2 separate regions of the Homo sapiens genome follow, and region 2 is linked to region 1. The links come from fine-mapping of genetic effects on gene expression. Tissue or cell type: esophagus mucosa. Region 1 holds a variant in brackets; the other region holds the start of a gene. All regions are shown on one strand. Distances are between the middles of the regions.

Region 1 (8,104 bases):
GAGGCAGAGGTTGCAGTGAGCCGAGATCGCACCATTGCACTCCAGCCTGGGCAACAAGAGGAAAGCTCTGTCTATAAAAAATAAAAAAAATAGACAGGGTCTCGCTCTGCAGCCTTGAACTCCTGGGCTCAAGCGATACACCTGCTTCAGCCTTCCGACTAGCTGGGACTACAGGTATGCATCACCACACTCAACTAATTTTTTTTTTTTTTTTTGAGACAGAGTCTCACTCTGTCACTCAGGCTGGAGTGTAATGGTGTGTTCTTTGCTCACTGCAACCTCCGTCTCCTGGGTTCATGCAATTCTCCTGCCTCAGCCTCCCAAGTAGCTGGGATTGCAGGCATCCACCACCATGCTTGGCTAATTTTTGTATTTTTAGTAGAGACACGGTTTCACCAGGCTGGTCTTGAACTCCTAGCATCAGGTGATCCACCCACCTCGGCCTCCCAAAGTGCTGCACACCCAGCTAATTAAAAATTTTTTTGTACAGACAGGATCTTGCTATGTTGTCCAGGCTGGTCTTGAACCCTTGACCTAAAGAAATCCCTCTGCCTTGGCCTCCCAAAGCACTGGGATTACAGGAGTGAGCCACTGCACCTCAGCCAGCATGACTTCTTAAAATAAAAAGTAGGAGAGAGATGGATTTCAACACAAACCCCAAACACTAAAGATATAAATATAATACAACATCCAACGTCAACACTATCTTCTTTCCCTGACTTGTCTTGTTTCCAACCGCAGCACACACAAGATCTTTCTCTATGCCCAACTTTTATCTTCACCCTTCTCCGCTATCATTTTACCTGATTGTCAAAGCACATCTCGACTGAGAACTGAATTTTGTCAGCTACAACACCTCCACTGGGAAAAATGGCATAGATCACCAGGGAAGGATCAGGGGCCAGTCTCGAAGTGAAGGTCAGTGAGAGAGAGAAGGAGGCTTTCAGTCCTGAAAGAGAAGAGGGAATATACAGGAAAATCAGAATGCACATTCACCTGCCAACGGCATCTAACCATATGTACTTTTCACTGAGCCAGTGCAGGCACCATGGTGCAAGTTACTTCTCATTTTTCTCTTCTCCTGTGATAACTGTTAGTGCTCCAATTCCATTACTTCTGTGGATAAGAATTTTTTTATTTTATTTTATTTTATTTTATTTATTTTTTTTTTTTTTTGAGACGGAGTCTCGCTCTGTCGCCCAGGCTGGAGCGCAGTGGCATGATCTCGGCTCACTGCAAGCTCCGCCTCCCGGGTTCACGCCATTCTCCTGCCTCAGCCTCCCGAGTAGCTGGGACTACAGGGGCCCGCCCCGACGTCCGGCTAATTTTTTTTTGTATTTTTAGTAGAGACGGGGTTTCACCATGTTAGCCAAGATGGTCTCGATCTCCCGACATCGTGATCCGCCCACCTCGGCCTCCCAAAGTGCTGGGATTACAGGCATGAGCCACCGCGCCTGGCCAAGAATTGTTTTCTGGAATTTAAAAATATCCTGTTTGCTTCCGGGAAAAGCATGTACACTCACCTTTCTTCTTAGAGTTCAGGTGTTTCTGCCCCTCCATCACCAAACTTCCTTTCCCTATTAACTAAAGAAGAAAAGAAAAGAATCAACTGCACAGAAGTTACAGTAATTTCACCTTGGACCAACTTCCAGAGCATCTCTGCATCCCTTCATGAGGAGAGGTTCCTTTCACAGTTCAGAGTCCGGGTCAATACCTCACCCAGCATCCACTAGCTTGACAAATGCAGGATGCTGCCAACGGGTCCTGGTGGCTCCTCCTGCAGTTGGAGGTCTGGCTGAGAACCACGCAGGTGGATGGGAGGAGTCTGACAGCATAGAAATTGTTCCTCACCATAGATAACTGTCTGCCATTTCTTGAAGATCTCCAAATTTTATTTTCTTATAATCTTTGTAACAGAAAGTCAGCGAAAATCTATCCTCATAAGTGTTTTTTAATTACAGCTCAATTTAAAATTCAGTGGAAATAATTTCATCCTAAACCACCCTGAGCCCTTCTGACATTGAACCCTCTAGAGGAGAAATCTCCTCTTCTAACTCCCCCTTCCCGTCCACTCTCACTTGAAACAGAACTCGGTGATCTTGTTTGCAAGCAGGCTCTCATCCCACGCTCCTGCAGGGCTCCAAGGTCGGTTCCTTGGACGCCTGCCCAGCATTAGCCATTCCACGTGGCTCGGCCCTAACTTCACTTTTGTCCTACACCTCCCCACACTTCGGTCCTGAAGACAGAGCCCGCTTTATCACTGGACTTGTTATTTTCCACCTATCTTTTCTCTTTTCGTTGTATTAGGATGATTTTTTTTTTTTCACTTAACGACAACACTGAAACCATGGAAGCTACTGCAATGATCCAGAGGGGAGAAAGTCTCTCATAGACTGACAGGAGGATAACGGAACAAAGAGGCTCCGAGCCATCAAACCTGAGGTTTCCATTCTACTTCCTGACTGTCACCAAGGTGACAGGAAAGCTGCTTATCCTTATACATTGCTTTCAGGCTACCAAGTTATGATTTTATTTCCCCAATGAGGCTGCTATCGATGTGAATTTAACCCCATATCATCTATTTGATAATATTGACCAATGGAACACAGAATGAAATGTATCCTGGCTGGGCTCGGTGGCTCATGCCTGCAGTCCCAGCACTTTGGGAGGCCAAGGTGGGCAGATCACCTGAGGTCAGGAGTTCAAGACCAGCCTGGCCAACATGGCGAAACCCTGTCTCATATAAATTAAAAAAAAAAAAAAAGTATCCTGAGTCCCATCCCTCCCCACTCTCCCTCCCAACCACCCAGCTGGTTTTGTTTTTGTTTTTGTTTTTTTTGGTCCTGGCCAGCACTATTTTCTCAGGTAATTCCTCATTTTATTTTCCCACACAATTTTCCTGTGTTCCTGCTCAGAATCTCTTTCTTCCCCCAATGTTTTCCATCTCTTACACCTATACTGGGCCATGCAGTATCTCATAGCCACATAGGAATATTGAATACTTGAGGCCGGGCGCGGTGGCTCATGCCTGTAATCCCAGCACTCTGGGAGACTGAGGCAGGTGGATCACGAGGTCAGGAGATCGAGACCATCCTAGTTAACATGGTGAAACCCCGTCTCTACTAAAAATACAAAAAAAATTAGCTGGGCGTGGTGGCGGGCGCCTGTAGTCCCAGCTACTTGGGAGGCTGAGACAGGAGAATGGCGTGAACCTGGGAGGTGGAGCTTGCAGTGAGCCAAGAACACACCACTGCACTCCAGCCTGGGCAACTGAGCGAGACTGTGTCTCAAAAAAAAAAAAAAAGAAAAAAAAAGGAATATTGAATACTTGAAATGTGCTCAGTCCAAACTGAGATACGCTTTAAGTGTAAAATACATACTGAGTTTCAAAGACACCGTTGAAACAAGAATGTAAAATATCTATTAAAACTTTTTATATGGCTTTCGTGTTAAAATGTTAATATTTTGGATATAATGGGTTAAATAAAAAATACATTTAAAATTAATGTCAACTGTTCTTTTACTTTTTTAGTGTGGCTTTAAAATTGTTTTTAATTAGATGTGCATCTGCAATTCAGATAGCCTAGGTGCACCCTCTGGCTGACTCTTCTCATTCTCTTTCCTTCCCAGCATACTCTCACCCGTCCCCGTTTCC[C/T]GGTCTCACATAGTAGGAGAAGCTGATCTCTTGGTCAGGGCTTGCATCGGCCGGGTCGATGTAATAATCCACCAGCACTTCCTGGGGCTGGCCACATTTCAAGGGGCCGTTTAGCCGGTGGATGCCAAGGAAGCTGCGGGTTGTGCTGTAGAAGGGTCGCAGGTGCAGGTAGGCATTTTGGTAGTAACGTGGCACTTGTTCCGGATTATATACTAAGTCTTCCATTTGAAACTTTCCCTGAGAATAAAAGAGAGAGAGAGAATTTTAGCATGTGCTCCAACCATGGAAACCCCACGGACTTGTTACGGTTTTCAAATAGAGCTCTTTCTCTCAAATCTTCACTGCCTGAGAATGGCATGTGGGTATTTCATTAGCGGTCCAGCCAAGGATGGATAAAGAATCCATAAACGTAGCTGTGTACAGCAATATTTTGGTATGTAGGAGAGCGACAGAAGGGCTGAATTATAGTTACTAAATGAGAGGAAATTGTGGGTGATGTATCTTCACAGATATTCCTGGGATAGATGAACGTGACTTAGATTATATAGAAATCAAAGATTATATTTCAGGGATAAGAAAACTAGGCACAGAAGACACTAAGATTGAAAAATAATTATTTCTGAGTAACTGAGTCATGCCTAGAGTAAAGAAATAGTCAAATTAGCCACAAGGCAAGTAGTATGTGTTTGCTTAAGTCCTGAGGTTGAACGATCTCATTAATGGCTCCAATTCCTCACACGCACCCCGCCCCCTCCGAGATCAGCATCCTTGAGCATGTGGTCTTCCAGTACCCTCCTAGTCTGTGCCCACTGTTCGATTTGTTGGGAAAGGGGTGTTAACATATGCAACAGGGGCCGGGCGCGGTGGCTCACGCCTGTAATCCCAGCACTTTGGGAGGCCAAGGCGGGCGGATCACGAGGTCAGGAGATCGAGACCATCCTGGCTAACACAGTGAAACCCCATCTCTACTAAAAAATACAAAAAATTAGCCGGGCGTGGTGGCAGGCGCCTGTAGTCCCAGCTACTCGGGGAGGCTGAGGCAGGAGAATGGCGTGAACCGGGGAGGCGGAGCTTGCAGTGAGCCGAGATCACGCCACTGCACTCCAGCCTGGGTGACAGAGTGAGACTCTGTCTCAAAAAAAAAAAAAAGAAAAAAACATATGCAATATACAGAGGTTTGGAAAAGCCCTGAACATCAGCTTTTGCACTTGCACCTCATCACTGCCATAAGAATATACCTGGGCTAGCTGGCTCCTGCATGAGAGGCATGCGGAGCAGCAGCTTATGGCCAGCCGATCTGCAGACAGTTCTGGAAATCGAAATCAGCAGAGCTGCCTGACTGAATGCCCCAGATGCACAAGCAGTGAATGCTTTCTGCTGCACGATACTGAAGTTTGTAGCTGTTTGATAAGAAGCATTGTTGTGGCAGTTGATAATTGATACTTATAAGTTATCTAGAATCTAGAGTTCTCTTGTTTGCTGTTTTTATTAAGTAATGAGGGGATGGGAAGGGGAAAGAGAAAGAAAAAGACTCTGAGTCACCTATTCCTCCCTGCTCTAACTTCATATATAGATAGGATCAGATAGAGATGGGGGTAAGTTAAAAGATGTATTAGTAGAAATAGTAGTTTTCATCCAAGTAAGGACTATTTATTTGATTGATATTAAAAACAGAAAGCATCTAAGGAAAACTTTTTGTCAACGGGAGAGCAGGACTTGTGAGTGAGAAAGATGTAATTCCAAGCAGAGGGGAGAATAGGAAACAGGAAAATTCTGAAGTTTTCCTTCAGGGAAGCCTTCCTTTCTAGGAAGCTGGTCCTCCGTCCATGCTTACCTCCAGAGAAACGTCTGTCCCATTCCAACCGGATGTCTCCAAGGTAAAGGGAGCTAGGCCATTGTTATCAGTAACCAGGGTCTGGTTGAAGGTTCCATTTGTGCCATAAATCACCAGAAACACTAGATGGTTCTTGAGGAAGGAGTCATCATGGCCCCTAACTCTTATCTGAAGGACAAAGATCATTACGGATTAGAATTAGGTTTGGAGTAAGCTTGAGTATGAGGTAAAGTGAAATATTAGGTTGGTGCAAACTAATTGTGGTTTTTGGCACTAAAAGTAATAACAGAATTTCTAAGAATACATTTCAGGAAAGAGTCCTGAAAAAGATAAATGTGATTCAAGCTTTTGAACTAGGATCTGTGAGGAACCGAAAAACAAACAGAAGTAACAGCCCAGAGCAGAGCTAGATTTGCCCGGTGGCTAATGAAGCTTCAGGGCTCTTCATATGCACAGGCTCCTTCAAAGGTTCTGCACGTTGTTTTGCTTTCTTTTTTCTTTCCTTCCTTCCTTCCTTCCTTCCGTCCTTCCTTCCTTCCTTCCTTCCTTCCTTCCTTCTTTCCTTCCTTCTTTCCTTCCTTCCTTCCTTCTTTCCTTCCTTTCTTCCTTCCTTTCTTTCTTTTTTTTTTTGAGATGGAGTCTCAGTCTGTCGCCCAGGCTGGAGTGCAGTGGGACGAGCTCAGCTCACTGCAACCTCTACCTCCTGGGTTCAAGCGATTCTCCTGCCTCAGCCTCCCAAGTAGTGGGACTATAGGCCCGTGCCACCATACCTGGCTAATTTTTGTATTTTTAGCAGGGACGGGTTTTCACCATGTTGGTCAGGCTGGTTTCGAACTCCTGACCTCGTGATTCGCCCGCCTCAGCCTCCCAAAGTGCTGAGATTACAGGCATGAGCCATTGTGCCCAGCCTATTTTGCTTTCTTTTTCTTAAAGCGAATCCCCTACCCTCCCAAACTGTGTAATCCTTAGGCTCTAAAAATAATTTGCACCCACCCTTGGTCTAGAGAAATGATAACTGAGGAATAAATGCATCTCTATGTGTGCAATATTATTGTGTGGACCAGCTGTACAAGAAGTAAAGAAAGATAAGCTGAACAAGAGAGAAATTCAGTTAGATATCAGAAAGAAAACACTAGCAAAGAAAATTTAATTATGTATTTATCTTTTTTTTTTTTTTTTGAGACAGTCTCGCTCTATCGCCCAGGCTGGAGTGCAGTGGCATGATCTTAGCTCACTGCACCCCCTGCCTCCTGTGTTCAAGCCATTCTCGTGCCTCAGACTCCCGAGTAGCTGGGATTATAGGCATGCGCCACCATGCCTGGCTAATTTTTGTATTTTTAGCAGAGACAAGTTTTCGCCATGTTGGCCAGGCTGGTCTCGAACTCTTGGCCTCAAGTGATCTGCCCACCTCAGCCTCCCAAAGTGCTAGGACTGCAGACGTGAGCCACCACGCCCTGCCGGAAATTTTAAAATCTCTAAAGAAAATTGCTAGTCAGGCACAGTGGCTCACTCCTGTAATCCCAGCACTTTGGGAGGCCCAGGTGGACGGATCACCTGAGGTCGGGAGTTCAAGACCAGCCTGACCAACATGGAGAAACCCCATCTCTACTAAAAATACAAAATTAGCCAGGCATGGGGACACATGTCTGTAATCCCAGCTACTCAGGAGGCTGAGACAGGAGAATCGCTTGAACCTGGGAGGTGGAGGTTGCGGTGAACAGAGATCGCGCCATTGCACTTCAGGCTGGGCAACAAGAGCGAGACTGTCTCAAAACAAAACAAAACAAAACAAAAACAGAAAGAAAAACAAAATTGCTTACAGAGCTATACATGGCTGTCAAGGAAAGTTTCATATTAACCTTGCCTAGATGCAGGAGACCAGGCTGGATGATTTCTCTAGAAACCCTGCAGCTCTTAAATATGAAGATTTAGACATTAGAAGATCAGCCCCTGGCATTAGAAAGACCCCTAAGGTGTCATTAATATTCAAGGCACTTCTTCTATGGGATTGGGGCAGCAGAGTACAGGGAGTGGAGAGTGTATACCCGGGAGGCAGGCTTCCTGGATTTGGTCATAGTTCCCATCTATTTGTGATCACCTTGGAAAAATCACTTAGCCTCTGTTGCCTGTCTCAGTATCCATAAAATGGGGCCAATACAGTGCCTGCCTCATTGCATTATTCTAAAGATTAAAATGAATACACATAAAGTACTTGGAACAGCACTAAGTTAGCTATGTGGCTATGGCTGCAGGAAGGAGGCAAAGTAGATGGTTATGCATTTTTTTGTCTATGCAGAGAAAAGTTTTAACATACCTTCCCACTGAAGGGGAAATTTGGATGGTAAAAATTGCTGGTGTCTTCAAAGGTCATTGATCCCATTTGTGGAGAAATGTAGATATTCTGAGTGGCATTGGCCTCCACACCTGCAGAGGGAAACCAGATGTATAAAGATCTAGGCACCTGATATTCTCATCTTCACGTTTAATGTCAAGTCTCTGAGAGAATGGTGGCAGAGGGATGAAGTTGAATGTATTTCTGGCCAAAGATCCAAACCAACCTCACCTCCCCAATCTTTTGGAGAAGTATGTAGTATTTCTTCTTTTTTTTTTTTTTT
Region 2 (8,104 bases), 21 kb after region 1:
AAGTCAAAATGGATGAAAGATTTAAATCTAATACCTCAATCTATGAAACTATTATATATAAGAAAACTTTGGGGAAACTCTCCAGAACATTGGTCTGGGCAAAGATTTCTTGAGTAATACCCAAGGAGCACAAGAAACCAAAGCAAAAATGGACAAACAGGATCACATCAAGTTAAAAAGCTTCTGCACAGCAAAGGAAACAATCAACAAAGAGACAACCCACAGAATGAAAGAAAATATTTGCAAACTACCCATCTGACAAGGGATTAATAACCAGAATATATAAGGAGCTCAGACAGCTGTATAGGAAAACATCTAGTAATCAGATTAAAGAACGGGCAAAAAGATCTGAATAGACATTTCTCAAAAGAAGACATACAAATGGCAAACAGGTATATAAAAAAGGTGCTCAAATCATTGACTGTCAGAGAAATGTAAATCAAAACTACAATGAGATATTATCTCACCCCAGTTAAAATGGCTTTTTTCCAAAAGACAAACAATAATAAATGCTGGTGAGGATGTGGAGAAAAGAGAACCCTCATACACTGTTGGTGGGAATGTAAATTAGTACAACCACTATGGAGAACAGTTTGGAGGTTTCTGAAAAAAACTAAAAATAGAGCTTCCATATAATCCTGCAAGCCCACTGCTAAGTATATATACAAAAGAAAGGAAATCAGTATATCAAAGACTATCTGTGCTGCCATGTTTATGGCATCAGTATTCACAATAGCCAAGATATGGAAGCAACCTAAGTGTCTATGAACAGATGATAAAAAATGGATTAAAAAATGTGGTACACATACATAATGGAGTACTATTCAGCCATAAAAAAGAATGAGACCCCATCCTTTGCAACAGCCTGAATGGAACAGGAGGTCATTATGTTAAGTAAAATAAACCAGACACAGAAAGACAAACTTTCCATGTTCTCATTTATTTGTGGGAGCTAAAAATTAAAACAATTGAAGTCGTGGAGATAGAGAATAGAATAATAATTTTTAAGTGTGTGGAAAAAAATAAGGTAAAAGGAAAAAAATTTTTTTGAAAGAGAGAGAGAGAACAGAATGATGGTTACCAGATGCTGGGAAGGGTAATGGTGGGCAGGATGAGGGGTGGGGTGGGAATGGTTAATGGGTACAAAAATATATTTAGCTAGAATGAATAAGATCTAGGGATCTTGTAGTTTTTAGCACAAAGAGTGACTACAGTCAACAATAATTTATTGCACATTTAAAAATTACTAAGAGAGTATAATTGGATTGTTTGTAATACAAGGAAATGATAAATGCTTGAGGTGATGGATACACATGTACCCTGATGTAATGATTACACATTGTGTGTGTGTATAAAAATATCTCATCTACCCCATAAATATATATACACCAGCTATGTACCCACAAAAATTTTAAATAAAAAAATAAAAAAAACCCAAACATAGTTTCTTTTCAGGGTGCCTGACTTTGAAATCTCAGAATGAAGTGCCCCTGTAAGGACGAATGAACAAATACAAAAAAAAAAAAAAAAAAAAAAAAAAACCCCAGTAGCTCAAGCCAAATGCCCTCAGTGCTTTCTTAGCCATTTACAAGCAGTTTGTTGTAAGGCCCAGCAACCCAGTTATACTTGCCAAATTCTATTCCAGAAGAAATGTGTACTTTTGTTTTAGATACACAAACTCAGTAGCAACCCCCACCTACTTCTCTTGCTTGTGTAGCGCAGCATGTATTCAACACTTGCACTACTTAATCCCCCCAGATTTTCCTCTCCTCTGCACTCCTTTTTTTCCAAAGCCTACTGTCAAACCACAAATCCCCTCTTTACCCCTGTGCACAGCGGTTTCCCCAGGTTTTAGTCGAACCCCAAATATGTGACTCTTACCTTGCTGCCCTGGGGTGTAGAGAGGTTTGTCAGTCTGTACAAAGGTGCCGTTCCCCTGCCTCTGAATTAGAACCTTTTTCTTCTCCTCAAAGCTGATGTTATTTCCAACTCCCGACACCCGGATTGTGGCCACTTCTTCTGTGCCACCAGCAGGAGGTGGTACCTGACCAAGAAAGGGGACTTCTGGGGAGGGGTAAGGGATTGGGGGAACAGAATCAACTGGTCTCAACCCAACAGTGAGTTAAAGGAAAGAGCTGAGTTAGATGGGGGTAGCAAGGATAGAGACATAAAACAAATTACCACGAGGAAGAATTAAGGTCAGGAACTAAAGGGAGAAATCCTAGGTCGAGGAAACCGTGGGTGAGTTATAGCCGGGGATTGAGGTTAAGTTGAGAAAAAATAGGTTTAGAGGCCGTGGCAAAAGATAACAGAAATTATACTTAAAGTAGATTATAGTGAGCCTAGGGAGGAGAATAGGCAAGTAAGGGATTCGAGTGAGGGCTGAGTCTGTGCTTACAAGAAAGGAGATACAATGTAAGTGCCTCTTCTTCAGTCCAGAGTATTCTAGCAACTTCTGGGTCTTGTCCTTGGTCTCCAGAGTAACCGTGAATTTAACATCACTGTACCCAGGGCTCAGGTCCAAACAAACCTTCTGAACGGAGGGGAAATTTAGCCGGGCTGGTAATGTCACCAGGTAGTTTCTATTAAAGGAGCAGAAGGATTTCAGGGCAATAATGATTCATTCACTCGAAAAATCCAGCACTCTCCTAAGCGCTCAGCAAGTAGCAGTGAATTAGACAGACCAAGCCCCTGCCTTCCTTATGCACCTCATTTTCTACAAGAAGCAGAGGGGCAACGACTCAGTGCACAGTCTTCAACTTCCGCCATCAGGAGGCCCTCACCGAGCACACATGCCTAGAGCACCAAGGAGGAAATTAGGCCTATTTCAGAAAACAGGGCACATTTTAATATTTATCTTTTTTAAAGCTTCCTCTTCATGCGTCAGCCTCCCTCTCTGGGTAAAGGATCAGTGGAACCAAAGAAGAGAAAAAAGGAGGAGGAAATTAAGATAAACCAAAGTTGATCTCCCCATCTCCATATAAATGTTTGAGAAAGTTAGGCGAAGAAGCCGCTGCCCTAATAAACCAATTCTGACACCAAGCACTCACGGAAGTTCTTCTGCAATGGCTGGTGATAGGGCCAACATTCCTAGAAGGAGCTGAGCCCACATCTTTGTGGGTGAGACAGATTTTTCCAGGGTCAGGGGCAGAGATCGCTCCGCGTAGCTTTATATACTAATTCCAGGTAGGGTGTGCAGTGATGACTGATGCTATAGTCAGTCACCTCCTGGCACCTGGAACACAGGAGGACTGTGTTCCTCCTTCTGTAACCACCAGGTTAGGTGGTGGACCAGGGTAGGGCCACTATTCACTTCTTTAAAGTTGTTTCTGCCTGGAACATCCATACTGGTTCAGCCAGTTTTGGGGGAAAACCAGAGCTGAGTATTCATAATGGTAAAGCTCTCAGAACATATTTTGAACTCCTCCCTTTTTTTCTGGTCTCATTCCAATTCCTGTTCTCATTTAATGTCCTTATTTTCTTTTATTATTCAATTAAGGTGTAGTTGGGAACACGGGTATGAGAACAGTTTCAATAGAAAAGCAGTAAACTTGGCCGGTCACAGTGGCTCACGCCTGTAATCCCAGCACTTTGGGGGGTTGAGGTGGGCAGATCACCAGGTCAGGAGTTCAAGACCAGCCTGGCCAACATAGTGAAACCCTGTCTCTACTAAAAATACAAAGAAAAAAAAATCAGCTGGGCATAGTGGTGGGTGCCTATAGTCCCAGCTACTTGGGAGGCTGAGGCAGGAGAATCGCTTGAACCCGGGAGGTGGAGGTTGCAGTGAGCCGAGATCATGCCACTTTACTCCAGCGTGGGTGACACAACGAGACTCTGTCTCAAAAAAAAAAAAAATTAATACTACTCAGTATTGTTGTGACTGTATGGAAATAGGGACACACACAGTCCTAGAGAAAATAGAATGTGGATAACTTTCTCATGGCAATTTTGTAATACACACCAAAGCCTTTGAGATTTGCATATTCTTTCACTCAGCAACTCCTACTCTGGAAATGTTTCTTAATGAGGAAAAAAAGGACAGCATGCATGTATGCACAAGTGTAACACTGAGTTTTTTCACACTGTTCTTTCTTTTTTTTCTTTTCTTTATTTTTTATTTTTTTGAAGTAGAGTCTCACTTTATCACCCAGGCTGGAGTGCAGTGGCACAATCTCAGCCCACTGCAGCTTTGACCTCCTGGGCTCAAGCGATCCTCCCACCTCCACCTCCTGAGTAGCTGGGACCACAGGTAGGCACCAACACTCCTGGCTAATTGTTTTGTATTTTTAATAGAGACAGGGTTTCACCATGTTGCCCAGGCTAGTCTCGAACTCCTGAGCTCCAGGGACCACCTCAGCCTCCCAAAGTGCTGGGATTACAGGTATGAGCCACCGTGCCCAGCCCACAGTGTTCTTTATGATGGTAATACTTAGAAGTCACCTAAAATATAAATTAGTCTAAGTGCAGTGGCTCATGCCTATAATCCCAGCTTTTGGGAGTCAGAAGCTGGAGGATTGCTTGAGCCCAAGAGTTTGAGACCAGCCTGGGCAACATAGTGAGACCCCGTTTTGTAACCACCCAATGGATTCACCTTGCTTGCTGCCTAGACAGAGCCGATTTATCAAGACAGGGGAACTGCAATGGCAAAAGAGTAATTCACGCAGAGCCGGCTGTGTGGGAGACTGGAGTTTTATTATTACTTAAATCCTTGAGCCTTCGTGGATCAGAGTTTTTAAAGATAATTTGGCAGGTAGGGGCTTGGGAAGTGGGGAGTGCTGATTGCTCAGGTTGGAGATGGAATCATAGAGGGTCGAAGTTAGATTTTCTTAATGTCTTCTGTTCCTGGGTGAGATGGCAGAACTGGTTGGGCCAGATGACTGGTCTGTGTGGTGTCAGCTGATCCCATGGAGTGCAGGGCCTGCAAAATAACTCAATTACTGATCTTAGGTTTTACAGCAGTGATGTTATCCCCAGGAGCAATTTGGGGAGGTTCAGACTCTTGGAGCCAGAGGCTGCATGACCTCTAAACTGTAATTTCTTTTTTTTTTTTTTTGAGACAGAGTCTGGCTCTACCGCCCAGGCTGAAGTGCAATGGCGCGATCTCGGCTCACTGCAAGCTCCGCCTCCCGGGTTCACGCCATTCTCCTGCCTCAGCCTCCCGAGTAGCTGGGACTACAGGCGCCCGCCACCACGCCCGGCTAATTTTTTGTATTTTTAGTAGAGACGGGGTTTCACCGTGTCAGCCAGGATGGTCTCGATCTCCTGACCTCGTGATCCGCCCGCCTTGGCCTCCCAAAGTGCTGGGATTACAGGCGCGAGCCACTGCACCCGGCCTCTAAACTGTAATTTCTAATCTTGTAGCTAATCTGTTAGTCCTACAAAGGCAGACTGGACCCCGGGCAAGAAGGGGGTCTTTTTGGGAAAGGGCTGTTATCAATTTTGTTTCAGAGTCAAACCATGAACTGAATTCCTTCCCAAAGTTACTTCGGCCTATGCCCAGGAATAAACAAGGACAGCTTAAGGGTTAGAAGCAAGATAGAGTCGGTTAGGTCTGACTTCTTGCACTGTCATAATTTCCTGTTACAATTTTGCAAAGGCAGTTTCAGTCTGTATAAAACATTTCTTTAAAATTAGCTGAGTGTGGTGGTGCACGCCTGTAGTCCCAGCTACTCTGGAGGCTGAGATGGTAGGATTTGCTTGAGCCCAGGGGTTCAAGGCTGCAATGAGCCATGATAGCACCACTGCACTCCAGCCTGGGCAACAGTGAGAACTTGTCTCATAAAATAAAATAATAAAATAGATTAGCCAGGATGCTCTCTGGGACCAATGATCATCCTATATCAAACCAGCCTAAACAAAAAAGTGTTTTTGGTAACTGGAATGGATCCAACAGGAAGAATGAGCTTATGGAACCAGAGCACCTTGAAAAACTTGACAGCCCAGGAGTGGAGACGTGGTGCAGCCAGGGCCGACTCCTCCCAGTCCTTCTCTCTTGTGTACTTGTCTCTGATTGGTTCATTTTCTCCTACTGCACACAAGCTTTTCTTCAAGTCGTAGGGAGGACGGCAGCTGGGAGCCCTCAAGCCATATTCGTTCAGCTCCACGACCCCAACTGACAAAATTTTTCACCTATGTTATAGAAATTCCCGAAGAAGGACTGTGTTCCTCCCTCTCTCGCTGGCTCACCTCTGAATCAGTCACTGTAGTCAGGAGGGTATGATAGGCAGGGCCTGGGTCATTCTCCCACCTAAAGGCCAGGGTGATGGGGTACTGTGATTGGCCACCCCTTTAGAACCACAGGGAGTTGGGGAGGGGAAATTGTTCAAAGAAATCACTACAGTAGGAAAAGTGTTGGTGTAAAGAGCTGCAAACATAAAACATTAAGTCTATTACAATGCCCCATAAAGAGTTCGGTTGAATAAACTGTCATGTTAATATAAAGCAATACTCTGCTGCCATTAAAAATAATGTTTTCATGATAAGGGGAATTATTTGCAATGCTAATTGAAAGGGGTTGGGGCTGGTGCAGCGGCTCACACCTGTAATCCCAGCACTTTGGGAGGCCGATCCGTAGGAGCTCGAGACCAGCCTAGTCAACATGGCGAAACCCTGTCTCTCCCAAAAATACAAAAATTAGCCAGGCATGGTGGTGGGCGCCTATAATCTCAGCTACTCGGGAGGCTGAGGCAGGAAAATCACTTGAACTGGGGAGGTGGAGGCTGCAGTGAGCTGAGAGCATAACATTGCACTCCAGCCTGGGCAACAAGAGTGAAATTCCGTCTCAAAAAAAAAAAAAAAAAGAAAAGAAAGGGGTTGGGGAAAGTGATACAAAACGACATGTGGCAAGTTCCACTTTAACTTGGAATTTGAAAGGCTAGAAAGAGTGTGGCTTGGTGGCTCGAGCCTGTGATCTCAACACTTTGGGAAGGCAAGGTGGGAGGGTTGTTTGAGGCCAGGAGTTCGAGATCAACCTGGGCAGTATAGTAAGACCCCATCTCTACCAAAAAAAAAAATTAAAAGTTAGCTAGGTGTGGTGTCACATGCCCAGCTACTTGGGAGGCTGAGGCAGGAAGATCACTAGAGCCCAGGACTTCAAGTCTGCAGTGAGCCATGATTGTGCCACTGCACTCCAGCCTGGGCAACAGAGCAAGACCCTGTCTCTAAGAATAAAAAATAAAAATAAGCTGGAAAGTGCATTGCCCCCTCTCTGACAATATGAAAAAGCCAGACAAACTGCAAAATCACTTTTCTTAAACCAAAAGTTGAACCTAAATGCTGAGCTGGGCCGGGGGCGGTGGCTCACGTCTGTAATCCCAGCACTTTGGGAGGCTGAGGCAAGCAGATCACAAGGTCAGGAGTTCGAGACCCGCCTGGCCAATATGGTGAAACCCTGTCTTTACTAAAAATACAAAAAAATTAGCCAGGCATGGTGGTGCATGCCTGTAATCCCAGCTACTCGGGAGGCTGAGGCAGGAGAATTGCTTGAACCCAGGAGGTGGAGGTTGCAGTGAGCTGAGATCACGCCATTGCACTCCAGCCTGAGTGACAGAGCAAGACTCCATCACAAAACAAAACAAAAGAAAACAAAACAGCTGAGCTGAGGTTGCAGGTAAGCTAAGTAGCCTGAAATTCAAGGACATGCAATCCTCATGAGCAGAGACCAGATGGGTGGAGTGTCTCATCAGTGCCAGAGTATGGGAGGTATTTAGGCCATCATACAAGCATGCAAGAAGAAAGCAGCTACATTTTTCATAAATTGCTAGAGGCCTAGTGCAGACTAGAGTGACTATAAGGAGCCTCTGGGTGTCACAGAAGCAAGGAGGGCTTTACTTACCCACAGGCTCCTTTCCATGACCTCTACCAGGTGTTCACAGGAAATACTGGGGGCCAAGTGGGAGACTACAAAGAGCCCCCTCAGTACTATGGGCATCAAGGACCGTATTTGCTATCATTGCAGAAAAGGCCCCAGCTGCCCATGCTCCTCTCTCGAAAGCCTTAAGACCCTGGGGAGGACTGGCAAATACTGTTGCTCCCAGGGCACAGGTGTTACCAAGGGAAGAGCAGGGAGGACCCTAGTCCGAGGGAGGGACAAGGAGCAATTGTG

The links. PIP is the estimated chance that this variant, and not a neighbour inherited with it, causes the effect.
Region 2: A2ML1 starts here. The variant in region 1 is fine-mapped to the expression of A2ML1 in esophagus mucosa (GTEx, PIP 0.97).

What each region holds. Positions count from the first base shown.
Region 1 is chr12:8,838,922-8,847,025 of GRCh38, reverse strand. A2ML1 (alpha-2-macroglobulin like 1) reads right to left here. Exons shown (of 36, transcript NM_144670.6): 10 at 7,804-7,913; 11 at 5,490-5,657; 12 at 3,665-3,892; 13 at 1,524-1,584; 14 at 804-949. Among named protein-coding and RNA genes, the nearest start is that of A2ML1-AS1, 12 kb to the right of the region's middle. The variant C/T (reference allele first, on the strand shown) is at 3,656.
Region 2 is chr12:8,817,660-8,825,763 of GRCh38, reverse strand. It overlaps A2ML1 (alpha-2-macroglobulin like 1), which reads right to left and starts at 3,143. Exons shown (of 36, transcript NM_144670.6): 1 at 3,051-3,143; 2 at 2,399-2,582; 3 at 1,882-2,044. The coding sequence starts at 3,112. The region is part of intron 1 of A2ML1-AS1 (A2ML1 antisense RNA 1); the gene reads left to right. RefSeq lists a silencer at 6,097-6,391.